7 linked regions of the Homo sapiens genome follow. The protein of the gene in region 1 purifies or fractionates together with the protein of each later gene. This does not show direct contact. Each region holds a gene or a part of one and is shown on either strand. Other genes may lie near its edges. The genes, in order: TNFAIP6, ITIH3, FOXRED2, ITIH2, FAM91A1, VCAN and ACADL.

What was found.
Region 2: the proteins of TNFAIP6 (region 1) and ITIH3 purify together in Homo sapiens (affinity purification with mass spectrometry; one large-scale study listed by BioGRID and IntAct). This does not show direct contact.
Region 3: the proteins of TNFAIP6 (region 1) and FOXRED2 purify together in Homo sapiens (affinity purification with mass spectrometry; one large-scale study listed by BioGRID and IntAct). This does not show direct contact.
Region 4: the proteins of TNFAIP6 (region 1) and ITIH2 purify together in Homo sapiens (affinity purification with mass spectrometry; one large-scale study listed by BioGRID and IntAct). This does not show direct contact.
Region 5: the proteins of TNFAIP6 (region 1) and FAM91A1 purify together in Homo sapiens (affinity purification with mass spectrometry; one large-scale study listed by BioGRID and IntAct). This does not show direct contact.
Region 6: the proteins of TNFAIP6 (region 1) and VCAN purify together in Homo sapiens (affinity purification with mass spectrometry; one large-scale study listed by BioGRID and IntAct). This does not show direct contact.
Region 7: the proteins of TNFAIP6 (region 1) and ACADL purify together in Homo sapiens (affinity purification with mass spectrometry; one large-scale study listed by BioGRID and IntAct). This does not show direct contact.

The regions. Positions count from the first base shown.
Region 1 is NC_000002.12:151,377,569-151,380,796, reverse strand, and holds the end of TNFAIP6 (tumor necrosis factor-inducible gene 6 protein precursor), read right to left. Parts: intron 1,610-3,228; exon of another isoform or gene 1,434-1,609; coding exon 1,264-1,433; 3' UTR 751-1,263; downstream 1-750. UniProt on the Homo sapiens protein: Major regulator of extracellular matrix organization during tissue remodeling. Catalyzes the transfer of a heavy chain (HC) from inter-alpha-inhibitor (I-alpha-I) complex to hyaluronan.
Region 2 is NC_000003.12:52,793,399-52,797,646, reverse strand, and holds the start of ITIH3 (inter-alpha-trypsin inhibitor heavy chain H3 isoform 4 preproprotein), read right to left. Parts: upstream 2,852-4,248; 5' UTR 2,844-2,851; coding exon 2,751-2,843; intron 2,045-2,750; coding exon 2,024-2,044; intron 1,167-2,023; coding exon 1,000-1,166; intron 909-999; coding exon 804-908; intron 543-803; coding exon 380-542; intron 1-379. UniProt on the Homo sapiens protein: May act as a carrier of hyaluronan in serum or as a binding protein between hyaluronan and other matrix protein, including those on cell surfaces in tissues to regulate the localization, synthesis and degradation of hyaluronan which are essential to cells undergoing biological processes.
Region 3 is NC_000022.11:36,496,880-36,500,629, reverse strand, and holds part of FOXRED2 (FAD-dependent oxidoreductase domain-containing protein 2 isoform 1 precursor), read left to right. Parts: intron 1-2,473; coding exon 2,474-2,639; exon of another isoform or gene 2,640-2,775; intron 2,776-2,892; exon of another isoform or gene 2,893-3,072; intron 3,073-3,750.
Region 4 is NC_000010.11:7,709,816-7,713,565, reverse strand, and holds part of ITIH2 (inter-alpha-trypsin inhibitor heavy chain H2 precursor), read right to left. Parts: intron 386-3,750; coding exon 281-385; intron 1-280. UniProt on the Homo sapiens protein: May act as a carrier of hyaluronan in serum or as a binding protein between hyaluronan and other matrix protein, including those on cell surfaces in tissues to regulate the localization, synthesis and degradation of hyaluronan which are essential to cells undergoing biological processes.
Region 5 is NC_000008.11:123,767,056-123,771,363, reverse strand, and holds the start of FAM91A1 (protein FAM91A1), read right to left. Parts: upstream 2,926-4,308; 5' UTR 2,662-2,925; coding exon 2,590-2,661; intron 1-2,589. UniProt on the Homo sapiens protein: As component of the WDR11 complex acts together with TBC1D23 to facilitate the golgin-mediated capture of vesicles generated using AP-1.
Region 6 is NC_000005.10:83,537,559-83,541,308, reverse strand, and holds part of VCAN (versican core protein isoform 1 precursor), read right to left. Parts: coding exon 1-3,750. UniProt on the Homo sapiens protein: May play a role in intercellular signaling and in connecting cells with the extracellular matrix. May take part in the regulation of cell motility, growth and differentiation. Binds hyaluronic acid.
Region 7 is NC_000002.12:210,222,448-210,226,864, reverse strand, and holds the start of ACADL (long-chain specific acyl-CoA dehydrogenase, mitochondrial precursor), read left to right. Parts: upstream 1-1,417; 5' UTR 1,418-1,601; coding exon 1,602-1,678; exon of another isoform or gene 1,679-2,452; coding exon of another isoform or gene 2,453-2,466; exon of another isoform or gene 2,467-2,550; intron 2,551-4,417. UniProt on the Homo sapiens protein: Long-chain specific acyl-CoA dehydrogenase is one of the acyl-CoA dehydrogenases that catalyze the first step of mitochondrial fatty acid beta-oxidation, an aerobic process breaking down fatty acids into acetyl-CoA and allowing the production of energy from fats.

The sequences.
Region 1 (3,228 bases):
GAAATTAGTTGTTTATCTGACCTTCCAAGAAACCAAGAGCCACAGAGAGATAATAGCCAAACCCTCAAACAGACCAGTTTTAGCTGGCATGATAAGGAAGTTGCCTCTGCTTTAACCTTTATAAGAAAAGTAACTTTGAAACAACCAGTCTGCTTTTTGTTTTCTGTTTCTGCTCTCCTCAGCCCTTTTATATCAATAAAACCAACGTCCTCTGCTCAGCTCATCAGAACACTCATTCTATTTTAAAAATGAGGTGCCTGATTCTAGAATTGCAAATAAAAGCCAATTAAGATCTTTAAACTAAATTTGTTGTCATTTTGTCTTTTGACAGTCCTAAACATAAATATGAGAAAAGAGACCTCAGCAAAATCAAGTATAATTGCAAATAAATTTTAACATTTGATATATTTTAAAGAACCATTAAAGTAAAAGACAAAATATAAACTAAAAATTAAATTACAGCATATATGACAAACATGGACATATATAATAATTTCTAACAAATCAATAGAGAAGATTATATCAGTTTTTAAAAATAGTGAAAAAAAGGCATGGAAAAATAATTCACAAAAAAAATTAACAAAAAATTATATAACCATCAATCTCATGAATAAAGAAATGCAAATTCAAACTACAGTGAGGCCTCATTTTTGCCTATCAAAACAGAAAATTTTATTTTAATTAACCTTTGATTCAGTAATTCTATTTCCAGGTCCTTGTCTTAAATAATTAGAGAGGTGCACAAATATGTGTGTTCAAGGATATTTATTGCAACAATATTTATGAAAATGACCTGAAATTCCAACAATAGAGACAGGCTTAAATAATGCATAAAACATTCATATCATAGAATATTTTACAGCTGTTTAAAATCATGTTTTTGTAGAATAATCAATGATTTCAGAAAATGTTTATAAAGTTCAAGATTTAAAAAGTATAATACAAAACTGTACATAGAGCAGGATTCCAAAATTTCAAATGCAAATACATATAGGTACATATATACATATACCACAAATAGAAAAATGACTGAAAGAAAAAAATATGAAAATGTTAACGCTTGTTATTTCTATGCAGTGGGATTATGAGAGGTTTCATTTTCTCGTTTAAAGTTTCCTATATTTTCCAATTTTCCCTAAATTATGTATTGCTTTCACATTTAGAAAAATAATAAATAAATGTTAATAATAACAGTGAGATCAAAGGAGTTCCAAAAGATTCCAACATAAACACTGTGTGTTTTGATCATCCTTTTTTTTTTTTTTATAAGTGGCTAAATCTTCCAGCTAAAAAGTTTTTATTTCCAGTAGAAGTAGTACTTGTATTTTTTCCTTGACTGGATTTGGATACAGGATCCATTGCAACATATTTGATTTGGAAACCTCCAGCTGTCACTGAAGCATCACTTAGAAACTTCAAGGTCATGACATTTCCTGTTGCGGGGAAGGAGGCAAAAGAACAAAGATGTTACTCTCCTTTGATTTGGCTGACAATTCAAAGACTCTTCATTCTCATAGGAGAATATAAGAATTCATGAACAAGATTCCCAGAATTCAGAGGTCGATTCTCAAGCTGAAGAGTCTGTGGTTTCATTGCCGCATGGAACAGGGTGAGAGACGTTTGTATTTTTTCCTTTGGTCCTCCAATCTATCCTACAGGAAATTTTGTCTATTGTATTTATTTATTTATTTTTGAGATGGAGTCTCACTCACTCTGTTGCCCAGGCTGGAGTGCTGTGGCGCGATCTCGGCTCACCGCAACCTCCGCCTCCCGGGCTCAAGCGATTCTCCTGCCTCAGCCTCCCGAGTAGCTGGGATTAAAGGCACGCACCACCACACCTGGCAGATTTTTTTGTATTTTTACTAGAGACGGGGTTTCACCATGTTGGCCAGGCTGGTCTCAAACTCCCGACCTCAGGTGGTCCACGCACCTCGGCCTTCCCAAGTGTTGGGATTACAGGCGTGAGCCACCGAGTTGGCCTCTCTCTTGTATTTAAAAGGTACTCTTGGGCTGGGCCTGGTGGGTCACGCCTGTAATCCCAGCACTTTGGGAGGTCGAGGTGGGCAGATCACCTGAGGTCGAGAGTTCCATACCAGCCTGACCAACATGGTGAATCCCCGTCTCTATTAAAAATACAAAAAATCAGCCGGGCTTGGTGGCGTGTGCCTGTAATCCCAGCTCCTCGGGAGGCTGAGGCAGGAGAATCCTTGAACCCGGGAGGCGGAGGTTGCAGTGAGCCAAGATTCTGCCATTGCACTCCAGCCTGGGCAACAAGAGCAAAACTCCGTCTCAAAAAAAAAAAAAAGAAGATACTCTTTGTAGAAGGAACATCCACAGAATTACAGGAGAATGGCAGGGCAGGTCAAACCAGCGATGGGTGGATGAGTTATTTACTAAATGATGTCAGAGCAACAAGTTTCACATTTATTAGAAATGAAGCTAGATTCCTACTTTACACAGAGTACCTAAACACATTTTACCGTAATATAAAGACCAAAATGTGCTAAATAAAAAGGAAAAACTTTATTATATAACATAAAATATAGGAATATTTATATCTTTTTCAAAAAGGAGGCAAAGGCCTTCTTTTTGTTTGTTTTTGGAGACAGGATCTCACTATGTTGCCCAGGCTGGTCTCAAGCTCCTGTGCTCAAGTGATCCTTCTACCCCAGCTTCCCAAAATGTTGGGGTCACAGGCATGAGCTGCAAATATATATAAACAAAAGCAGAGTATATACATTCCTAATGCTTGCTTTTATCTATTAACTCATTTAACCCCCACAACAACACTGCGAGGTGAGGGGGATACTTTTTAAATATTCATTTTACAGATAAGAAACTGAGGCACAGAGTGACTACTAAGTAGCTTGCCCAAAGCCACAGAACTAAATGGGCAGAGTCAGGTTTGAGCACAGGCAGTCTGGTTTCCGAGTTCATGCTCTGATTCTCAGACTGCTATTTTCTCATATTTGGAAGATTTGCCTAAATATAAAAAAAAAATTTTGCACGAGACAGACTGAGAGAAAATAGGGTTAATATCTCTAATATACAAAGAAATAAAAAAGAGAAAGACAAAAGCGCCAAAGAATATGCAAGAAATATAAATTCATAGGCAATTCATAGGTGTTCAAAGGGCTAATAGACATTTAAAAATGTGTTCAAAAACACTACCAAAAATTCAACTTAGATTATTAATGATACTTTTTTGCTCTTCTATTGTGAGAGAAT
Region 2 (4,248 bases), on another chromosome or scaffold:
AGAGTATGCTGATCGGGAGGTGTTACCACCGCCTGCCATATGCGCCCGAAATTCCACCACTGATGCTTTTCCTTTGGCTTTCAGCTTTGAGGTAGGAAAAATGCCCATGTGCCCAGTGAGAAGCCTTACAGAGGCACTTGCTGGTGTTGCTCTTGAGGGCCCAGCACCGAATCTGCATCTGTGGAGTCCATCCCAGCCTCTTCCCCTTGGCCCCAGATGCTTTTGGCCAGAACCATTGAATTCCTCCAGCCTTCCCAGCCAAGGATGGGGGATGCCGTGAGGCAGAACTTTTGTTTTTGACCCCTGTCTGAGACTGCCCCATGGGCGGGTTCCTGCACCCCGCTGCCGTCCCCCCAGGTCTGCAGGGGCGGTTGATTACCTCAAAGTGTTTGACCAGTTGCTTAGGCTGGACCTTGAGGTACATCTCGTACTTGCCCTTGTGCCTCTTCAGCAGCTCCTCGTAGGTTAGCTCGAAGGTGACTTTGCTGCCTGCAGCCACGTTGACCGAGACTGTGAACTTCTCCAACTTCCTCCCAGAGGCCCTGACCAGGGTGCGAGATGGTGACTCCCTCAAAGACTGCAGGAGCCCACCCTTCCTCGGCCCTCGGCCCCAGGCCCAGCCCTTTGGCGAGGGAGATCCCTAACCATTCTGAGCCTCACTTGCCTCAGCCTCAACGTGGGATAATGGCAAAATTATGGGCACATTTTGCTATACCAATAATAATAGCTGTTGTTGTTGTTTGTAGCCCTGAAGGCCCTTGGATCCCAGACATTCTCCCCAAGGCCTGGGAGTCCATACTTACTTGACCAAGCCGGCCGTCTTGCCCTGGGACACAGCCTTTTCATACTGCTTCTTGGCAACTTCCTTCTCCTTGACATTCCCAGGGTAGGTAACACCGTCGATGGTCCTGCAGGGAAAGAGAGTTGGGGGTAGGGAGATCACACTGGGCCAGACCCCCTGTTCCCGAGCCCAGAGCCAGCAGCCATGGTGGTACCCACAAGGTGAAGTTGGTGATGAAGGCCGTCTTGGGCAGCTCCACATCAAAGGAAACCTCCTTGGCCGTGTCTGCACGGTTGACGGCTCTCATGGTGACAACATTGTGAGCAAAACGGGAGGTCACCTTGGAGTTGATTTTGGTACTGTAGACCTCGATGCCATTGGCCACCTTTGGGGAGGTGGGTGGAGAATCAGCCAGACTGGGACACTGGAGAAGCAGGTTTGCAACCCAGCCACCTCCCTTGCAAACCCTTGGAGGCTCTGAGGCCCCTGCCCGGCACGCAACCCTCATCCTCCAGGTCTTCTACACTGGAAGACTTGGTGGCGTCTCCAGTCTCCATGTTCTGGTGGCCACCATTATTCAGATGCTTGTCCTGCCTCCTTAATTCTGCGATCCGTTTACACACCACTGCAGCCAGTGAGAGCTTGCCCTTTCCCGTCCAGTCACCCTGAGCTCCAGCTATGCGTGGGACACTGGCTCTGGAGCATCTGCCCCTGGCTCTTCCTGCTCATCCTCCACACCTCACACTCCCTCAAGCACACAGCCCAGCCCACCTCCTGGGTCTTTAGGTAATTGCCTCATTCTGTCTCCCAAAGAGGAACTGATTTCCTGTGCCAAGGGAAGTCTCCAAACACCCTCTTTCCAATAGGGGTGTTGAATTTTGAGAGGCTCTAGGGAGGTGTTCCAGCCCCCTCCCCCTAGGGATATAAAGATGCTTCGTGAGGGTGTGGCAGGGACCGCTTCACAGAGCCAGGTACCAGCAAGTGCTAAGGAAGTGTCTGCGGAAGGAAGGGATGCCTGTGAGGGGCCCTCTTGGGCTACATCCTGCGAGGTTGGAGGGGTCGTCACTCTGTGGTGCTCTTTCCCAGGAGTCCTGCGCTGTTGGAGGCTGCCAGGGCAGAGGGCCGTAAGCTGTTTGCCAGCTGTGAGGAGTCAGCTGTTATAGCCTACACCTTCAGCAGTTGGGGAACCAGCTCCATCCTGCCCTGCCCCACTCGGTCCCACCCCCTGGTGAAAGTTCTTACCCCTTCCGGGAGGCTCCGTTTCTGAAAAAACAAAAACAAACACAAACACAGGAATCAGGCCAAGGCCAACACCAAGGCCGCATGGCCTGGGAGGCTCTGGGCTGAGACCAGGGGTTCAGTGGTGCCCTGCCCCCCACACACCTGAGTGGCCCCCAGACATAGGACCCTCCAGAGCCACATGTCAGAGTAGGAAAAACTCTGAATAGATGGGGAAACTGAGGTCCAGAGAGGGGCAGGTATCCAGGTTACCAGGAGAGCAGGGCAGGGGGAACTGAACCCAGAGCTCTCTTCACACCCTACATGCCCCACCTCATTCTATCTCCCATTCTGCCTTTCCCTGGCCCCCAGGCCCCTTTAGGCCTCCTTCCAGAGCACCCCTGCCCCCGCCACACCCCGCAGGGCTCAACTGAGCATTTTGTAGAGGTCACACTCGTTTGAGACTTGAACCTTCATTGCCCCTCAGTGAAGTGAGCAGTTCCTGGTGCATTGCTCTTTTGACAGGTGGGGAAGCTGAGGCCCAGGGAGTTTTAAGAGCCTTCCCAGGGTTAGACAACAGGTTAGCATAGGCCTCAGCTGGAGCCCGGTTCTCCCAGTGTCCACACTACTCCCAGCAGCTCAGTGCCCAGCCCTCTGCCTCCTCTTCACTCCACTCAGAGGCCTTGCCCAGCATGATGCCTTCTGCCCATTCCACACCAAGACCCAGATGGCAAAGAGGGGGCAGACTCACCCCAAGCAGCCGAAAGGGGCTTCTCGGGAAGCCAGAGGCTGCCAAGCTGGAGAGCAGAGCCAAGATGAGACAGGGCCACCATGCAAATGCCATCGCTGAATACTCAGGCCTGGCCCACGCTCCTTATATGAGCAAGCCTGGTGTTTTCCAAGCAGGGTCAGTGACCTGCAGCGGGGGTGGGAGGAGTGGAGGCAGGAAGGGCCTCCGGGAAGCTGGGCATGGGTGGAATGACGGGTCCCTCGATGTGTCTGTCTGAAGAAGGCCTGGTGGGTCTTGCCAACAGCGTTGGGGCTTCATTCCTGAGAGACCGGGGGACTCGGAAGAGGCCCGCAGGAAAGCAGAAGCTGTGGGCCAACAAATGGACCCTGGGACTCCCTGGCGTGGATGATGGAGATGGGGTGTGGAGTTGCATTTAGGGCAAAGGGCATCTCAGCATTGTTGCCTCTTATCCCTACCACTGGGACAGCCTCTCTCTGGCCTCCTGGATTGCAGCCCCTCCCTTCTTGAGGCAGCCAGGGCGTGAAACTAGACTGTCACCTTCAGGCTGGGACCTCCACAGCAGAGCCCCTCGCTCACTACCCTTCTATGGCCCCCAAAGCCCCAGGGAAAGGACACACAACGATCCCGGAAGCCCAGCTGTCTCTGTGATCTGACCCCAGCTTGTTTTTCTGAGCTCACTCTCTTGCACCAGCACACCCTCCCCTTCTGCACATGTCACATCTTTCATCTCTCTGCCAGTCCCAGTGCCTCCCCTCCAGGACCCTTCCCTGGCCATCCCCTAGAGGACTATGGGACATCCCTGCTCCAAGCCCCAAGCCCCCTGAGGGCCTGCTTTGTCATGACCTTATGTTGAGGTGGATGTGCTCAGGTCTGCCTGCCCCCTCTGCACCCAGAGCTCCTGGGGGCTGGACCATGTCATGTTTCCCTCTGTGCTTCCAGGGCCCAGCCAGGGACTTGGCTGCCCTCAGCCTTTTGGGGAGTCATTGCCCTAAAAGTCGTAGTGAGGCTGGGCTCCAGCTTCCAGGACAACAGGAGCTTTAGAGGCAGGACCTGGTCTCAGTGGGGGCTGGGACCTCCTGAGCCACCTCAGGACCCTGCCAGCCTAGCCCCATCAGGGCAGCTGTTGCACACCCACCATACCCATGGCTTCTCTGAGCCAAGCTGACCCTGTGACCCTCCCACTGGGCAGCCCACTACTGAATGGAGTCGACAAGGACGGCTGGGTCCAGGACAACTAACTTATGGGGAGTTCAGCGGCCTCAGCTGAAAGCTCTGGTGCTGACTGGGAGATGTGCAGAGAGAGTTGTTGGGAGCAGAGGAACCAAGAAGGCAAAAGGCAGATGCCACGGGGCAGCGGAAGCCCTGAGGAGGGTGTGGTCTAATGGCTGGAAGAGGCAGCAGCCACAGAGCAATGATGGAGAGTTGCCAAATCAGCCAGGCACTATGGCTCTTGCCTGTAATCCCAGCTTTTTGGGAGACTGAAGCTGGAGGATCACCT
Region 3 (3,750 bases), on another chromosome or scaffold:
CCTGGGCAACAAGAGCAAAACTCCATCTCAAAAAAAAAAAAAAAAATGTAATTGGATTATATCAGTTCTTTTTCAAAACTCTCAGTACCAAGGGTATAAATTTTCTGCCAACTTGAGAATGTTTACAAAGAAAATACTAAAATATCTTTTAAAAACATAATTCTATTTATTGCACTAAAATAATCCCCAACCAAAAATTGATACTTGTGATTTTAGGAGTAAATGGGAAATAAAAAGGAAGTGAGAGAGATGAATTCACGCATGTTGGGTGACTTCAGTGGGCTGAGCACTGAACACACGACCCTGGCAGGGCCGCCAGCACCCCGAAAGGTGGGTGTGAAATCTCCATTTTCCTCAAGAGTGTAAAACTCTGAGGCTCAGAGTTTTGGTGATTTTCTCACCATTATGGGAATTAAACTCCAAGGCCCAGGAGCTTTCCTGAAAGACACTTTCTACAAAGGTCTTCTCTTCTTTCATAGAAAGCAAACTGGTGCCCTTTCTGTGGAGAGGAGTCTAAAATGTTAGATGTGGCCAGGCACGGTGGGTCACACCTGTCATCCCAGCACTTTGGTAGACTGAGGTGGGTGGATCACCTGAGGGCAGGAGTTCGAGACCAGCCTGGCCAGTATGGTGAAATCCCACCTCTACTTAAAATACAAAATTAGCCGGGCATGGTGGCGGGCGCCTGTAATCCCAACTACTCGGGATGCTGAGGCAAGAGAATCACTTGAACCTTGGAGGTGGAGGTTGCAGTGAGCCAAGCCCACACCATTGCACTCCAGCCTGGGCAAAAAGAGTGAAACTCTGTCTCAAAAATAAATAAATAAATAAAAATTAGATGTTCCTGCTCCTGTGGTTAACCTTCTGAGAAGGACAGGGTGTTGGTTGAAATTCACTCAGTGAGGCATACAGTATTCAGTTAGGTGGTTAGGTGAGTCTATTTGAAAGAATGGAGTCATAATCTTACAGCTGAGCTTTAAAAAATTAGTATTATTATTTTTTTTGAGACAGCGTCTCTTCCTGTTTCCCATGCTGGAGTACAATGGCGCCATCTCGGCTCACTGCAGCCTCGACTTCCCAGACTCAAGCCATCCTCCCACCTCAGCCTTCTGAGTGGCTGGGACTTCAGGCGTGCACCACCACACCCAGCTAATTTTGTTGTTTTTATTTTTGTGTGGTAGAGACAAGTTTTCGCCATGTTGCCCAGGCTGGTCTCAAACTCCCAAGCTCAAGCGATCCACCCACCTCAGCCTCCCAAAGTGTTGGGATTACAGGCATGAGCCACCATGCCTAGCCTGAGCATCAAAAATGTGAAAATGTAGGGAATTACGGGGAGTAATCTTTATATTCTGCCACTCAAAGACATTCAATATTTATATTTCTTTTTTCTTTTTAAAGACAGTAAGGCAGGCTGGGCGTAGTGGCTCATGCCTATAATCCCAGCATTTTGGGAGGCTGAGGCTGGCAGATCAGCTTAGGTCAGAAGTTCGAGACCAGCCTGACCAACATGGTGAAACCCCATCTCTACTAAAAATACAAAAATTAGCCAGGCTTGTAATCCCTACTACTTGGGAGGCTGAGGCAGGAGAATCACTTCAATCCAGGAAGCAGAGGTTGCAGTGAGCCAAGATCGTGCCACTGCGCTCCAGCCTGGGCATCAGAGTGAGACTCTGTCTCAAAAATCATAATACAAATGAAGACGGTAAGGTGGACTTTATTCCAGGTTAGAGGACTACAATAATAAGTGTAGGGACCACTGCAGAGGGGTCTTACAGTACGGGCAAAGGATTGGACTCAATTCTGGGAGTCGGTTCCTCCTGGAACCCAGGAGGCGGAGGTCGCGGTGAGCCGAGATCGCACCACTGCACTCCAGCCTGGGCAACAGAGCGAGACCCTGTCTCAAAAAAATAAAATAAAAAATATTTAAAAAAAGAACTTAGAGACAGATGGATTTAGGCTGTGAAAGAGAGGGCGAAATCAAAGATTTCTGTAGGCGCGTCTCTGATGGAAACAGAGCTGTGAAGGGGGGGAGGTTTCTGGGGAAGGCTCCGTGTTGGACTTGACGTTCCTTGTGTGAGGTGGGGCCGGTGGGACTCCCACGTGCAGATGGCCTGAAGCAGGGGCAGATGGACTCTGGCCTGGAGACCAACTCCAGCTGTGCTCACTCCTTTGCCTGTTGTCTTGGCCGCTTTTACACTAGGGGCAGAATTGAGCAGCATCACTGAGTCGTGTATGACCCACAAAGCAGAGAATATGGATTGTCTGGCCCTTTCCAGAAAATACCTGCTGGCCCTGCTCTAAAGGCAGCTGCCATCTCCTCCCCTCATGTGTTCACCACCTAGGCGTTTGCGCTGGGCCATGGAGACCAGTGTGTATGGCGTTCTCAGGGGTCAATGAGGCCTGGGCATCCCTCCCAGTGACCAGAGATAAAATGGTAAGTGCAGCGTGCCGTTCCTCCCTCTGGCTGTTCCAGTGCGTGCTGTTCACCGGCTCCTGGAGCACCGCCACCACAGCGTCACCTGGCCCGCCACTGAGCTCCCCATCACACAGCTGACCAGCTCCATCGTGCGGCGCGTGAATGAGGCTTCTGGGCTCTACCAGATGTTCGGTGTGCTGGCCGATGTCATCCTGTTGAAGGAGTGAGTAGCCCGTCCCCACCCTACTCCCCTCGGCCCAGCTTTCCCGACGTGCTGCATAGCGCTTCTCTTCCTATTCCAGGTGTGAGGTGCCCAGTTCTTTCCTAAGATGAAGGCTGCTGTGGGGAACATGCCTGTTCTGGGGAAAAACAATGACATTAACTCTACAGACAGTCCTGTGAGTGGCCACGGGCACATTAGTGAGCCTCTCTGAGCCCTTCTTCCTCATCTGCAAAATGGGGATAATTGTGCCTACCTTGCAGCAGTAAAGGAAGGAGTAAAGGTCACTTGTGGAAAGTGTTTGGCATCACGTGGATGAGCAGTAGTCAGAGGCAGCCACGTGGATCTCAGAGCTCCCTCAGGCCAGGGCCTTGCCGGCCACCATCGTCAGAGTCAATTTAGTGATAAGCAGCAGATCCCAGAGGATGGACAGTTCCTGAGAAGGAAACGGTGCAGAGCACAGAGGGGTGAGGGGCGGGGGGAGACAGGTGGCAGGGAGAAGCAAGGGAGCAACCTTCAGTCAGAGGGAACAGCCCGATCCAAAGGCAGGGCGTGCTATAGCACACCAAGTTCAGGGACATGCAGGTAGTGCAGCCGCTTTCTGCACAAAACCCTCGCATCACCCTCCATGCCCCTGCCCCTCTTTTTTTTTTCTTGAGACAGTCTCGCTCTGTCATCCAGGCTGGAGTGCAGTGGTGCGATCTCTGCTCGCTGCAACATCTGCCTCCTGGGTTCAAGCACTTCTCCTGCCTCAGCCTCCTAAGTAGCTGGGATTACAGGCACCCACCACCATGCCTGGCTAATTTTTTTTTTTGACTCAGAGTCTCACTATGTCTTGCCCAGGCTGGAGTGCAGTGGTGCGATCTTGGCTCACTGCAGCCCACCTCCCAGGTTCAAGCGATTCTCGTGTCTCAGCCTCCCGAGTAGCTGGGATTACAGGCCCATGCCACCACACCTGGCTAATTTTGTATTTTTAGTAGAGACTAGGTTTCACCATGTTGGCTAGGCTGGTCTCAAACTCCTGACCTCAGGTGATCCACCCGCCTTGGTCTCCCAAAGTGCTGAGATTACAGGCGTGAGTCAGCACGCCTGGCACCCCTGTCTCAACACCCCA
Region 4 (3,750 bases), on another chromosome or scaffold:
CTCTTTAGAAAAAGCAGTGTTTATTTACAGAACATCCATCTACCTGCAAGACAGTGATGTAAGCACAACCAGCGTGGGATCACCCAAAACCCATTGGTTGAAGAGGGACCTTTAGGCGAATAGAAACTGCAGTGCCTAATTCTAACATCTGGCTCTGAGGAGGTTGCCATTGGCTCAGGTGCTGTGCCTTTCCAGAGGCTGCTTTGCTGCTGTGGGAAGGAAGTAGGAGAGGAAACCGTCATTGAGAGGCAAGGGCAAGCCTTGCTCACTCAGGCCTTACCTCACCAAGCCAGCCGTCTTGCCTTTTGCTCTGGCCTGTGCATAAAGAGCTCGGCCCACAGTTTTCTCCTTAATAGAGCTCCTAAATGTCTTGCCGTCCACAGTCCTAGAAAATGACAGAAGGTAACCAGTTGGTCAGAATAGTAATCTTTTTTTTTTTTCCCCTCGAGATGGAGTCTTGCTCTGTCACCCAGGCTGGAGTGCAATGGTGCAATCTCAGTTCAGTGCAACCTCCACCTCCTGGGTTCAAGCAATTCTCCTGCTTCAGCCCCCTGAGTAGCTGGGATTATAGGCGTCTGCCACCAGGCCAGGCTAATTTTTTGTATTTTTAGTAGAGATTGGGTTTCGCCATGTTGGCCAGGATGGTCTCGATCTCCTGACCTCATGATCCACCTGGCTTGGCCTCCCAAAGTGCTGGGATTACAGGTGTGAGCCACCGCGCCTGGCCCAGAATAGTAATCTTAGCAAAACAAACAAGAGCGAGCAAACAACCCAACAAGGCTAATTTAATGAATGAGGGCAATGATCATTTTGTGTCTATAAGAAATAAGAAGGGAGGCATTCAAATAGTTTATGGACAGGACTTCCTTTATTGATTGGATAGTGTGGCTTGAGAGGGGTTTGGTAGGCTCCCATCCTAAAACCTTTCCCTCATGTACTGTTGTTTGTTTATAGATTTTTCCTCATCTTTGAATTTCATCCTTTAGATTAAGGATGGTTCTCTTTGGGTATCCCCTTTGAATGACAAATGTGATTAGGGGAGGTGACTGATAAATTCCGAATTATCTCATTACTGGTTCATCAGGTCATTCTGTGAGCTAAGAATTTGGCATCGCTGTGGGGTATGCAATGGACCGAATGTTTATGTTCCCCGCAAATGTGCATGTTGAACCTTACTTCCTAGGACGATGACATTACGAGGTGGGGCCTTGGAGAGGGCTCTCTCCTCATGAATAGCATTTAGTGCTGTCATAAAAAACAGACTTCGAAGAGCTCTCTCATCTCTTTCCATCTTGACTGAACCAGGAAATGGGCCCTCACCAGACACGAAATCCTTGGGCATCTTGATCTCGGACTTCCCGGCCTTCAGAACTATGAATTTTAAATTTCTGTTGTTTATAATCTACCCATTTTATGGTACTTAGTCATAGCAGCCGGAGCTGATGAAGACAGAATATTATGCTCCTCTGCAAGGGTGGAAAAGAATAAAGAAAAAGGGGGAAGGTGCTGGTGGGTCCCCTGCCAAGGTGGTGTTTATCTGGAAACCATCTCCCTTGGGGACCTCTGTCTTCTATTTGCATCTCATCTCTATACACCTTACCTTTAGCTGGCTAGCACCTAATCCTTACCAAGTAATGGTTGGTCAGAGTGGTAGAATCCAGAATTTTGGAAGTACATGGGAACTTCCAGTACTCAAATGGGCAGTGTCTTTCCCAAGGAGCAATTTGGAAATGTGTGAAGTTTGGGTTGTTGAGATGACTTGGAAGTGCTGCTGGCATTTGTGGGAGGACACCACGAATGTTAGTCATCCTGCAATATGAGGGACAGCTCCACTGAAGAATTTTCCTGCCCCAAATGCCAACAGCACGTGTGTTGAGGCACACTTGTGGGTTTGCCCCTTTAGATGAGAGACATCAGACCCCAGGAGACAGGTGACTCTTGCCAAGGTCACACTGCTGGTCAAGGCCATCATGCTTCTATCGAATCAGAACTAAGTCTCAAAGGCCAAGGGGTCTTTAGGACAAAGGAAATCATCTCCCATAGAATATTCAAGATCTTGATAAAAAGGTAAAAGGGATATTTTGGCTAGTACATAGGTCTACACAGCTCATTTTAAGTTGTGATAATTAAGCAGGTATCTTCTCTGGTCTTATAGATTCAGCTCAGAGCAGAGGGAGATAAAAGTAAATGCATGTTTCACGATTCTGTCCTTTGTACTTCAAATCTTCTATGTAATGAGATAGTAAAGAAAGAACAGAATGAAGGACGGAATAGTATGCAGCCATAAAAAGGAATAAGATCATGTCCTTTGCAGGGACATGGTTGAAGCTGTAAGCCATCTTCCTCAGCAAACTAACACAGGAACAGAAAATCAAACACTGTATGTTCTCACTCATAAGTGGGAGTTGAACAATGAGAACACATGGACACAGGGAGGGGAATATTACACACCGTGTCCTGTCGGGCGGTAGGGGGCAAGGGGAGGGAGAGCATTAGGACAAACAGCTAACGCATGTGGGGCTTAAAACCTAGATGATGGGATGATAGGTGCAGCAAACCACCATGGCACATGTGTACCTATGTAACAAACCTATACATTCTGCACACGTATCCCAGAACTTAAAGTAAAAAAGAAAAAAAAAAAAGAAGGAAAACAGAAATAAGAGATCTTTTGAGTAAATTCTGATTGTGTGGTTTAAAAATAGGAATTTATTAAAATAGTTTTCAATGTCATTTCTAGACATGGGGTCATATAATACCAGTACAGAAAAGCCTTTCCTTCTCCCTTTGCTTTTTAGAAAAGGCAGACAAAAAAAGTGATACATTTTAAAGCCAATTCAAAGGATACCAATTAAAGTGACACAATGCCTTTTTCTGCCTATTTGGTTAGAGTTCACATGACTGCCACTTTCGGCAGCCAAAGTACATGGTGGTTGAACCCTTTACTATTTATCCACAATGATCACTGATTACCTTGGTGTATGAAAGACAAAAGTGGATGAGAAGTAATTCAACCTAATGTCTTCATAAAAAAAAAATAGCCAGACTTTATGCACAGTACTTTGCTGTGTTCTTGGCAACTTAAGAGGGACATTGACCACCTGGAACATACTCTGGGTTGGCCACCTTGATATTTGGACATAGAAATCATTCCAATCACTTAGAGGAACAGAGAATATTTAACTTTGATACATGAAGGCTCCAAGTGGATAACTGGTATTAACTGTTTGGAAAGTATTGGAGTAGTTTAACCTTCTTTTATTACGAAAAATTTCAAACACACAGAAAATAGAGGGAATAATATGAGATGTCCATGAAACCATCACTGAGCTACACCATTATGAATACTCAGCCAATCTTAATTTGTCTGTACTCTCATGCTTTCCACCTTAGTTGTTAAGAAGCCAAGTTCAAGGCCAGGCACGGTGGCTCACGCCTGTAATCCCAACACTTTGGGAGGCCGAGGCGGGCAGATCACGAGGTCAAGAGATCGAGACCATCCTGGCTAACACGGTGAAACTCCGTCTCTACTAAAAATACGAAAATTAGCCAGGCATGGTGGCGGGTGCCTGTAGTCCCAGCTACTCAGGAGGCTGAGGCAGGAGAATGGTGTGAACCCGGGAGGCGGAGCTTGCAGTGAGCCGAGATCACGCCACTGCACTCCAGCCTGGGCGACAGAGCGAGACTCCATCTCAAAAAAAAAAGAAGCCAAGCTCAGATGGCACATCATTTCATCTATGAACACTTCAA
Region 5 (4,308 bases), on another chromosome or scaffold:
GACAAATTCTTTCCATAGAAGGAATATTCCCCAAGTTTAAACTGACTGAGCTTTAGGTGCTCAGCCACAAATACTAAAAGCCAAGTATGTGAGAGGTGCTCATGGGACAAAAGCAAAGCCAGTATTGTAACCACAAAATGCACCATAGCGGGGTAAGCTCTATGACAGGTGAGGAATACAATGCAATGGTAAGATAGCCTAGGGGCAACCACCACAGATTTAGGTGGTCAGGGAAACCTCCCAGGAGCAGTATCAGAGTGAGAATCAAAATATGCTATTAATACAAGCAATATAAAGGAGACCAGCAGTAATAAGGTTGGGTTTGCATTTCAGAAGCCTCACCCCCAGAGTAGCATGAAGAATGCAGAGAAAGTCCTATTCTAAGAGCAAGAGACCAGAGAGAAGGCTGATGTAGTAATCTCAGATGGAGCTCGGCCTAGGGAAGCAGTGATTAGGCTAGAGAAGGTCCTTGGAAGTAAACTTGTACAGATGTTTTGCAACATCTACAAATGGCCAACCTTATCCTAAGCTAAAATAGCCACTGTTTTTCAAGTGATTTTAAAAACAAAAACATACTTAATTTCACATTTAGACCTAATTTTAACTGTCCCATGATTATTTTTAAATAGTCATGACTACGTTTTAGAAACTCTTTTGCCAATACTAATTAAAGTCAAATATTCATGTTGGATATAATCTCATCACTCATCTTTCTTCCAGTATGCTACATTTATTCTGATGAAAAGAGTAGAGAAAAAATGGAAACAAAGAAAAGAAGAACTGTTTGTTCTTCTTGTGTCTTTGGATTTGCCACAAAACCCTAAAGTACAAAAGTGTCCTTTAAAGCCTTTATTCAAGATTAACAAAAGAAATTTATTCCTTCAGGTTTAGAGCTTTGTTCTCCCAGTTTAAGATAAATGCCACACGGGCAGCCACTGACACCCAAGAATTCAAGTTCTTTAAATTTATCTTTCTCGGTTTTTGCTATATTAAAGTGAAAGCATTTTCTTGGCCACATGATGCATGACCAGAACCTTAATATTCACTTCCTGGCACTAAATCCCCAAGGGAGGAAGGGAGCAAAGTAAACTAAACTATAACAATCCTCATACTGGCTGGGCACTGTGGCTCACGCCTGTAATCCCAGCACTTTGGAAGGCCGAGACGGGCGGATCATGAGGTCAAGATATCGAGACCAGCCTGGCCAACATGATGAAACCCCGTCTCTACTAAAAATACAAAAATTAGCTGGGCGTGGTGGCGCGCACCTGTAGTACCAGCTACTCGGGAGGCTGAGGCAGGAGAATCGCTTGAACCCAAGAAGCAGAGTTTGCAGTGAGCGGAGATCACACCACTGCACTCCAGCCTGGGCAACAGGAGACTCTGTCTCAAAGAAATGAAAATAAAAATAAAAATAAATAAATAATCCTTATATACCATCACCGCCACCATTCCAAACTTCCCAAAAATGCCACTGCCGAGTGCCAACAGAAAACTGAATTTCACTCTCGACCAAGTATAATGGGAGGAAGCGAAGGTCAATCTATGACCAGAGCAGCAGTGCGTTATCTGTAGCCCATATCACTACTTTCGTAAGACTTAAAACCATCTGCTATGTTACGTATTTATTCATTTATTTGTTTACGTCTTTCTTTAGTAAAATGTAAGCTCCATGAAGGCAGTCTTTGTCTTGTTGACTGTTGCAAATTACCTGCACCTAGAGCAACGCACAGCACCTAGTAGGTGGTCAATAAATATCTATTAAACAATTGAGTAAAACAGACTAAAAAAATCGAGAATTAACTTTCAAAAACCTCATGTCACTCTTGTTGAAACATCTCTGATAAACCCATCTTGTCTGGAGGATAAAGTCCAACAAAACAAAGCACACAAGCACCTTCAAAATCTGGCCCTGACCACTTTTCCAGGCTCATCTGCTACCAGCCCCGCGCACTCAAAAAACTTCAACTCCAAACATGTCAGTCCAAACTCTGGTGATACAGTCACTTGCTACTCATGAGACATGTTCTTTCACTCATCCAAGCTTTGTAAAATGACTTTCCCTCCCCCTGGAAAAATCTTTATTCCCTCTTATTTAACTCTTATTCGTCCTCCAAGGCCCAATTTAAGTGCCTGCCTTAAAAATCCTTCCAACTCTCCCAGGATAATTTCTCCCTCCCTCTGCTCTCACATATACTACAATGCAGGTGTGTATGAGCTGCTATCATCCTGTATCGTATTCATTTGTTTCCCATCCCTTTCCCACCATCCTGAAATTCCGGAGGTCAAGGACCGTGTTTAAAATCTCTATCGCAGGTGCCTGGCTGAATGTATCCTGCGGGCAAAGGCGCCAGTCGAGTCCTGTGGACACCATGCCATCCCATTTAGCGATCGCCCCGTCCTGGCCCTGTGGCCCCACAGCCGTCCCCTCCTCGCCCTGGGCTGAAGGTCCGTCTCCCCAAGACCACGGAGGAGTAAAGGAAGGGAGTCAGCCGGCAGCAGCCCGCTCGGGCCCCGCGAGCGAGGCAAGCAGGTGACCGCTGGGCGGGCCGAATCCGTCAGGGGCCCGGTCCCAGGTTCCGGCCGTACCTGTCTCACGTTGGCCGGCAACTTGTTCCAGGGGTAGTTGTGCCGGATGTGGAACTCCACGTCTATGTTCATGATGCCGCGGCCAGGGCCGGCGGCCGGGGCCGCCACCGCGACCCACACTACGCCTCCCGCCTGCCCGCCCGCAGCCTGTCAGCGGAGCGACGCGGGAGGCCCCGCGCCTCACACTGCAGAAGGCCCAGGCTGCCCCATGGCCTAGGCTCCCGACAGTTCAGCGCCGCCCGGGCCAACCGAGTACAAGAGCAGCAGCGATTGGAGGCTGGATCGCCTGAACAGCTCCAAGTTTCTTCCTAGTTTCGGGCCGCCGGAAATGGCTCTGGGCACACGTCACTTCCGCCCGCTGGCGCGCGGCCGGAGGGGCGGGGCACGGACTGGCCTCTAGCCACGCCCTCTACAGGCTGCGGGGCGGGGCGACGACGAGGTACCGGGAGGTGCCCGGGTGAGCGTTCCCCGCCCGCGCGCTTCGTCTCCCCGTTTCAGTCTCTGAATGAACGGCGATAGTCGCTTGGGTCTGCGTTGCCGTTGCTGATGACCCAGTTTACTCAAATTGTAAAGCCGGAGGCACTGGGGTCGGTTTTCAGAGAAAAGCGACCTGGGAAGCGGGCCGGCAGTGGCTGGCTTTACATTGGAGTGCGGTGCGCTCGCGGGGGTTCTCCACAGGCCAGCCCGGAACCCGGGCCAGTGAGACGGGGCGGGGGGTTGCGGGGACGGGTCCAGGGCCCTGGAGAAAGAAATAATCTCTAAGTCAGGTCTCGCACCGGGTTGAGCGAGAAGCATGGGCAGTGGGAGAGCAAAGGTCTGGTAAGCCCTCTTCCCTTCCGCGGTGTGCTGCACGTCATTGGGCTCCACTTCCCAAGAAGATCCAAATTCTTACAATGCAGGGATTCAGGGAGCTGAAATTTTAAACAGTGGTGCTGACAGGTCGAGGCAGCCTACAGGGCTGACAGAGAGATACCCTTGCCAACTTTGTCATGCAGCCTGTCGGTTTCTGCTTTATTCTGCTCCACACAAATGCCTCCAGAGTCACTTAAAAGCAAAAATCCAGCATGTCTTAATTTCAGATTGAGTGATAAGGTCTTTGGGAATAATTTCTTTCAGAAGTTGTTACGCTGCCTTAGCAAACCCGTGACCATTATTCCTGGCAGCAACCAGAGACAAGTTCAGTGTTATTGCAACTGTTTTTCAGTTTTTAACAATGGTTTTAAATAATGTTTTATTATATACTGGGAGATGTATACTTAGAACTTTTTATAAGATACCTAGCTCACACCTCAACAGCTGGCAAGTCTGATGCTTAGCAGAAACCCCATTATGTCTGATGAAATAAAGGTGACAAGTACACACTGCCCTTGCTTAGATGTTTTGGTCTCCTATTATCCAACTATAATAACCCAAAGATAAGTGCTTTGAACCTTATGTTTACAGATCCTCATCAGCATAGCTAAGGTTAACTGAACTCTAACCGTGAGACATTTATTCAACAAATATTGATTACCTGCCCGCCATGTATTAAGGCCTTGACTTGACAATAGATTATTCCTCACAACCCTGATATTCCTACAACAGTAACCACTTACTATCCCAGTTTGATAGAGGAGGAGACTGAGGCTTGGCAGGGCTTCATGACTTGCTCGCAAGATCACACAGGTAGCACTGACAGAGCCAAACTGGAGCCGAAGGCTATCCTCACTCCAGAGCCAT
Region 6 (3,750 bases), on another chromosome or scaffold:
CTCCTGAAGAGAATTCTGGCTGAAAAGAAGGACCAGCATGTTTTTTGTCTTCATACTCCTCCTGAGTCCTTTCAAATTGGCCCAATGTTGGTATTATTTCACTTTGGTCTGCAATAGCTTGACCATCAGACAAAGTGCTTGATTCAAACATGTCATCCAGGGCTTTTGCTTCAGCTTTTATTCCTTCAATCTCTGGAATAACTGTGGCAGACTTACGAGGAATTGGCAGGGATGTTGCCGTGGGAAGTAAAACGTCTAATTCTGTTTCTGTGCTAGGAGCAGGGATCCCAGTTGTGAAGTGAAAGCCCATGTGATCTAGTTGGCTTCTATCTTCATAAGTCATTGATTCATCATGTGTTGCCTGAGTGTAGCTAGCCAGAACATCAGCAGAGCCCTCAAATGTTTCCTCAGTTAAAGAAAGGTTGACAGCTGCCTCATAGATCTCTTGAACTTGAGTGCTGTCATCATTACTTTCATCATTACTGTCATGTGGTTCTGATGGTACCTCTGTATCTATATCTGTTTGCATTCCAAGAATGTCTTCATACACAGGTTTAGTATGATCAATATCTATGATAGTATTTTTATCCGATGTCAGCTCAGGTAGAATTTCAAGGATGGTACTCTCTGTAATTGTCAATATTAAATCCTTGTCCTCTTTGTCCAGGTCTATGATAATATTTTCAGTGGGTTTTTTTCTGTTAGGTTTTAAGGTGGAATCCTCGAATTCCCTGAAACGGTCTTGGAAACTACCGTCTGTGGACCTCTCATATGACACTGTATTTGACAGTGTGCTAGTTGGATCAGGGGAGCTTTTGTTCTGCTCTGAATGAAGAGGCAGCATCACTGAAACTGTTGGGAATCCATCAGCAGTAACAGCTTTAGCGCTTGGCACCTCAGGATGTTTTTCCAGGGACCCATCAGAAACAAATGTGGTGCTGCTTTCTTGTCTGGTTGCCTGAGTAGTTGCAGAAGTGTGAAATGAATCAACAATATCCACTTCTCCAGATCCTTCTCCAGAAGGTTCATAATACAAGTCAGATGGTTTTGGTGCTGATGTAACAAATTCTTTGGCCATTTCAAAACCATAAGCTCTAGCCAGAAAATCAGTAGATGAGGTTGTTGTTTCGTTAATTTCTGCTGTTGAAGAATTCTTGTTAGAGTCTTGTTCAGTTATGGTTTGTGGTCTACTAGTCTGGATTTCTTCTGCCCACCTGACAGTCTGATTTTGAGGATGTCCGATGTCCGTGGAGAAAGGGAGAGGTGCCACCGTGGGTCCTTCTGCTCCAGTGTCACTTAAAATTTCTATTAATGTTGTGCTGGTTACTGACCCACTACCTTCAAAGATGTCTGTTTGAGATACGAGTGGTCCAACTTCTTTTGCCACATTTTCCATTCTGTTAAAGTCTTCAATTTTGTCACTTGAGGTACTTTCCACTTGAGAAGTGTGGGGATATAATGTGTTATTGATTTGTTCCACTTCAGTAAAATTCACTGACTCTGTTGGTAGAGTAGGTAAAACTTCTTCTCCTGATCCCAGTCCAGAGAATAAGAGCTCAGTATCTGACTCTTGAATTGTTGGTCTCATGCCTTTCGGAAAATGTTTTGTACTTTCTTCCTTTTTGATTGGTGAATCTGTGACTACATGTTCAGCTGGTATAGATTCAGTTACTAATGCAGTAGCTAAGAAAAAATGTGACTTTTCAGTAGCTTCAGGGAGAGTTGTGTAAGATTCCAAGCCATTTGCATCTGGATCTGGAGTAGACATGTTAACTAAAGAAGTGTCTTCCTCCTTCATTTCTTTATCATCACTGTAAGTTTTCTTTGTTGTTAGTACAGAATAATCTGTGGTTTTGAGTTCAGTTTCAGTAAATGTCTGTGAATCAAAGATTGTTTGTTCTGTTGCAGGAGAGTTTTGAGGGGATTCAAATGACTTTTCTTCTTGAATTTGTTCCTCTGATGTTGTTTCACTTTCAATTTCTTGTCTTACAGGGTTGACTTCTTGCCTAGACCATAATTTGGCTGGCTCTATAGTTTGGGGAAAGTTTGTTGAAACTGTGCCACTGACCTTTACTTCCTCCTTCTCTACTGGAGCTTTCGTACCTTCCACTTCTGCTGTTGGTAAAATGGTGGATCTTCTATCAATTTCATTGACAGTACCCACTTCTCCCAATCCTTCGTCGATAATGGAGGAAGCTGTACCAGAAAACTTTTGCACAGCACTGGGAAGCACTGGAACAACAGAGCTGCTGACTGTGACCAGTTGCTCACCTGAGCCCTCAGCTGAGGATGTAAACTCTTCCCAGGGGAAGGCTGAAGTGCTGACCATGGTGCTACTGGGTCCTTCTGAGTCAGATATGTGACTGATGTGAACTGAAGTAGGTACTGTAGATGGTGAAGTCTGGGTGTCCCTAAATGCTGCATCTCCAGAGCCTTCCATCATTACCGTTTCTTCTTTTGCTATGGGATGAGACACTGTTGAGTATTCTCTAAAGTCACCACTGAAATCTTCCTCCAAAGGAAAACCTGTGGAAAAGCCCCTTATTTCTGCCCCATAATTTGGTTCTCCTAATCGCTCTGAAATCACTATTTCCCTGGATGTTTGGGTTATATTTTCAGCAACTACTCTGTCCATTACTGTACTCAAAACCAGTCCTGTTGGCTCAGTGGAGAATGTAGTTTCCACATGCGGAGACAAAGTGCCAGCTACTTCCTTTTCGGCTTGAATTGCATACTCTACGTTTAATGAAAATGAAGAAACAGTGGTGGTTTCTGGGTCGGCAGCAGCTTCTCCAGAGCCCTGCTCCATAAAGACAGAGGCAGGACTACGTGGGAGAGTGGTCAGCCCTTCCTGAACCCCAGGTTGATGGATACTGCTGTGCTCAGTGGTCTGTGCCCCCAAATTTTCTAATGTATTTGTTTCTGTAAAGACAGGAGTAGAATCTGTCATTTCCCTTTCAGACTGTGTTGGTGTTGTCAAGGACATAAAACTTTTCCTGGTACCTGAATCACTAGATGTAGCTACATTTGGACTTTCTAATTCAAAGGGTAAAATTAATTGATCCGATCTCTGTGTAGATGAATATACCTCAAATGTAGAAGCCGTACCTGTAGTTCCCTCCTCCTCCTTCCTTTTCTTTTCCTCAACAGTGGTACTGGAAATCCACTCAGAAGTGTCTGTTTCACTTACAAACTTGGTAGGCACCACTTTTGCAGAAGGTTGTTCAGAAACTGGATAAATGGTGGTTGCAGGAACCTCAAAAAAGCTTTCTGTGATTATCCTGCTAGTGTCTAAAGTAATGAGTGTATCAGTAGTATTTCTCTGTGATAAATCAGTTACCATGGTGAACATTGTATCTTCATCTTCTTCTGCTTCTCCAGAGCCTTCTGTAATTGGAATCGAAGAACTCCCTGAGAGCTCTACAACTTGTCTAGGAGTTGCTTCTACCCAGCTTTCTTTGGTAGACAACAGGTCATCTGGCCAAGGATTTCCTATTAGGGTAACTGCTTCTTCCTCTGAAACATATGCTGATGCAGAACTTGGAACTATAGTGGGAGTGTATGTGACAGAAGTACTTTTTTCTACCTCTTCACCAAATGTTACTTCTGTAGCCCTTGCAAAGGCTATTTTCTGAGATTCTTGGTCAATGGCAATCTCTCCTGAAGACTCTTCAGGAAACAGAGATACAGGTTCAGTATGTTCATGTGCCTGATGACCAACTTCAGTATCTCTCTCTGTGACTGATTCTG
Region 7 (4,417 bases), about 59 Mb from region 1:
AGATACAGATACAGATACAGACACAGGCAGTTATTTGGGTTAAAGAAGCTGGCATTTTCATGGGGTTTAGAAAGGACCGTGTAGTCCATGACATTTACTACCAGGTATCAGAGGAAAAGCATAAGCAGTTCCTTTTCTTGAACATTTGCCTTCTAATTGAATAGGCATTGGAATACACAAAGTAGAGGGTTTTTTTAAAGGATTTGTTCTTTCTTTTATCTACTACAAAATATGAGTATTTCTCAATGATGACAATAATAATTACCATTTATCGAATGTTTATTGTATTCCTGTCTTTGTGCCAACCACCTGACCTCCGTTATCTGAAAAATCTTTCCAACAACCCTATGACATAGATATTGTTATTCTTCATTTACAGGTGAGTAAATGGAGGTTTACATTTGTATGGAACATGTTCTGCTACTTGAGATAATGGGAATAGGAGCCTAGGAGGGCTAAAAGCAAGGAGCCAGCAAGTCTAGACACATTCCAGAGGACATTATGTCAGTCATGCAAGCCCTGCCTCAGCTTTCTTCCCAACCCTCAGCCTTTTTTCCCAACAGTATATAAATAATGTGGTGTTCCTTTCAATACAGGTGTCTCTAATGCTAGTTTGTTCCATTCTTGGTGAAGTTAATTTGAATCACATTTGGTTAGCATGTTTATCAGTTTTTTTCTACTGAGTTTCCTTTTGTGAAGTAAGAACAAATATGTTTATGAATGTAGAGTTAGCTGTGCTAAAATTAAATGAAAAGTCAAGCAAACTACCCAGATAGTTTAAGCCAATCACCCAGGATTTCATGAACCCTTTGAGCCATTTATGTTTCCCTTGAGGGATATTTCACATCTTTTACCTGAGAGTTCTACAGGGCATGCTTTTATTAGTTGAAATGTCACTGAGGGCGAGAGTAATTGTTCAACGGATGTACTTGAACTTGGACATTTAAGAATTAACAGAACGGGCTGGGCGCAGTGGCTCACGCCTGTAATCCCAGCACTTTGGGAGGCCGAGGCGGGAGGATCACGAGGTCAGGAGACCGAGACCTTTCTGGCTAACACGGTGAAATCCTGTCTCTACTAAATCCTGTGTCGGATTAATTCGTTCTACTTGCTATTACCAATAAATAGCATGGGCTCCCAGAGCTATGCCTGGCTAACTCTATCACCTTCAAGGGTTTGCTCAAACTATTCAGCCTACTTTAAGTAAATCAATTTCCAAGGTTACAAAATAAACTTCACGTACATTTTTATGGTTAGGTATTTGCGCGTATTTGGGGGCTCCATAGCTTTCATCCGTTACTCAAAGCGCTTCAGGACGCTAAAAAGGCTCAGAGCTGCTTCGATAAACAAGAAAGAATGCTGCAAGCAAAGGCAGCAGTTTCGCTGTAAAATCCTATTGCTGACAGCCAAGACGGGCGTATTCCCTCGCGACCAGCCTGTGGCGTGGTTGGGGCTCCGGAAGGGCGCGCGCGAGCGCTTTTTTGGGAGGACACCACAGGTGGACGCCTCAGCTGATCGTCCTCCCTCCCGGGGACCCTGCCCCGAGTCGCCGAGTAGCCGCAGAGTCGCCTCCGTCGCCCCGCCGCCCCTGTGTTTCGGACATGGCCGCACGCCTTCTCCGAGGGTCCCTACGCGTCCTGGGCGGCCACCGTGCGCCGCGCCAGCTGCCCGCCGCGCGGTGAGTGCCAGCCGGGACTTCCGCGGCTGCAGGCCGGGAGGCTGTGGGGTGGGGCAGCGAGTCACTCCTGTCGCTGGCTTGAAGCAGGGCGGTGCGCGCGCGGCTGGGAGTGCTCCCCAACTCCGGCGCCGGGCTAGAGCTGGCCTCCTTTCCTGGATCCCGCGGACTGGGTGCAACCAGCATCTGGGCGGAGGAAAAAGGGGTGTCAGCCGTGCCGCCCCGAGAACAGACCGCCGAGCCCACGTCGGGGAAAGCCGAAAGATTTCTCCAGAAGTTCATTCCGGAGCCCCAATCCAACCCGTCTAGTTCAGCGGCCTGCAGTGGGACCCGGGAGCCTGCGTTTTGGGAGGAGGTGGTCACCCCCTGGGCCCGGCTGCAGGAGCGCGGGCTGCGATCTGTGTCCCAGTTCGAGCTGTGAACCCGGCGTTCCCCACGGCTTAGACTCGCCGCGCGGTAGTGAACTTGGGACCCGGACTCAGTGCCCGGGCTGCGGCGCGGACCAGAATTGTCCAGGACAAACTGGGCTAGAAATGACCTGGCGAGGGTTCCATCAAACAAGGAAATTAGCTTTAGATATATCAACAAATCTAACTAAATACAGAGGATTAATGAAGACAGAGTCTAAGTAGTTCAGTGACTACTAAGGTGGTGTTTATAATATGATCAAAAGTTTCAGATACTGTCTGATGCATAAAATCTATTCACTGGGTAAACAAATTGGAAGCATGGAGAATTCATTATTTAATAAGGGTGAAGGAACTGGCAAATTTGCGAATGACAGCATTGGTGTAAGCTACTCTAATTTTATTTGAGAGCTATGAAACAAAATGCCTACTTTTCCTGGGGAGATTTGGGAAGACGTCACTGAGAAGGTGACTTTTCTTTAGGATACATACTTAACTCTTCCTTGGAACATTATAAGACAGTGATCCTCAAACTTTTTTTTTTTTTTTTTTTTTTTTGAGACAGAGTCTCACTCTGTCGCCCAGGCTGGAGTGCAGTGGCGCGATCTTGGCTCACTGCTGCAACCTCCGCCTCCCGTGTTCAAGCAATTCTCCTGCCTCAGCTTTCCTGAGTAGCTGGGACTACAGGCACGCACCACCACACCCGGCTGATCTTTTTAGTAGAGACGGGGGTTTCACCATATTGACCAGGCTGGGCTCAAACTCCTGACCTCGTGATCTGCCCGCCTCGGTCTCCCAAAGTGCTGCCTCAAAACTTTTTGATAACAGGGCTCCCTTATGCTCTTAAACAGGACCTCAAAGGACTTTTGTTTATGTAGGTTATATCTATCCGTCTGTCGTTATCGAAAGGTATCTACATAACTGAGAAACTTTACAGATATTTAGTTTATTTAAAAGTTACAATAAGAAGCTCATTACATGTTAACATAAATAACAGTTTTTATGAAAAATAACTTTTCCTAAACAGAAAAAAAGTGAAAAGAGTGACATTGTTTTACATTTTTACAACTCCCTTAATGTCTGGCATAATAGAAGATAACCAGATAACTATATCTGCTTCTGTTTTATCCATTGGCGTAAGTTAGTTTGATTGAAGCATGGCAAGAAAATCTACCCTCAAATAGAGAACACTGGAAAAAGGGAGACCTGAGAGACCCTCTGAATGGGCTGGGGGGCTACAGTTTTGTTGTAACAGCTTTTTTACCTTTAATGTGCAAAGGAATCACCTGGGAATCTTGTTAAAATACAGCTTCTGATTCAGTGGGTCTGGGATGGGGCCTGAGATTGTGTATTTATAACCAGCTTCTAGGTGTGTGGAAGGTGCTGGTGGAGATTGTCTCCCTTTTAAAATGTAGGAGACTTTAAAAAAACAATAATAGCCTAGCCAATAAGATTAGTTGCAGTTTATTGCCTTAGAGAAAAAAATGCCAATTTTTCCATTACAGATTTCTTCATCTTTAGACTGAGAAATACATGTTGCAATAAACTTGCTGCCAAGTGTTTTGATTTTCTTCCCTCTGCATATTCTCTCTTGACCACCTTTGACTGACCTGAAAGTCTTTATTCGTTTGGCATTTCTTTTGCTTTCCTATGTCTTTATATATTTTACTTAAAAATATTGCAGAGATTTCCTTAACACAGTACAGGCTATTCAATTTTAAGATCCAGTAAGACTCGATTTTAAATTCTGGCTCTATTGTTTACTCATTATGTTGACAAATGATTCGGTGTCTTACAGCCCCAGTTTCCTAATCTCAGCATATTTTTTTCCTGAGGGAAACTCTCAAGTATGGAAAATCTATATGGACAAATACGTGCTTTATAATTTTATCTCTACTAGCAAGAAAAAGGAGCCGATCATTTCCATTATAGGGATAAAGTAGATGTTAGTTTATTTGATGCAACAGGACAATGGTCAAGGTCCCCTGCATGTCCTGGTCCCCTGTTATCTCTTCTTCCTAGAATCTCTGGCCTCATCTACTCTTCTCAGCCCACTCTGGCTACAATTGCCTCCTTGCTCTTTCTAGAACACATCAGACACCATTCAGACATACAGCCTTTGCTCTAGTTGTTCTTTTGTCCTAAAATTCTTTTATTCTAGAGGTATGCCTGGCTAACTCTATCACCTTCAAGGGTTTGCTCAAATCTCACCTTTCTGGTTTAACCTACCCTGACTGCAGCACTTTTTTTTCTTTTCCTTTTTTTTTTTTTTTTGTTTGTTTGTTTGTTTTTAGTGACAAGGCTCACTATGTTGCCCAGACTGGTTTCAAACTCC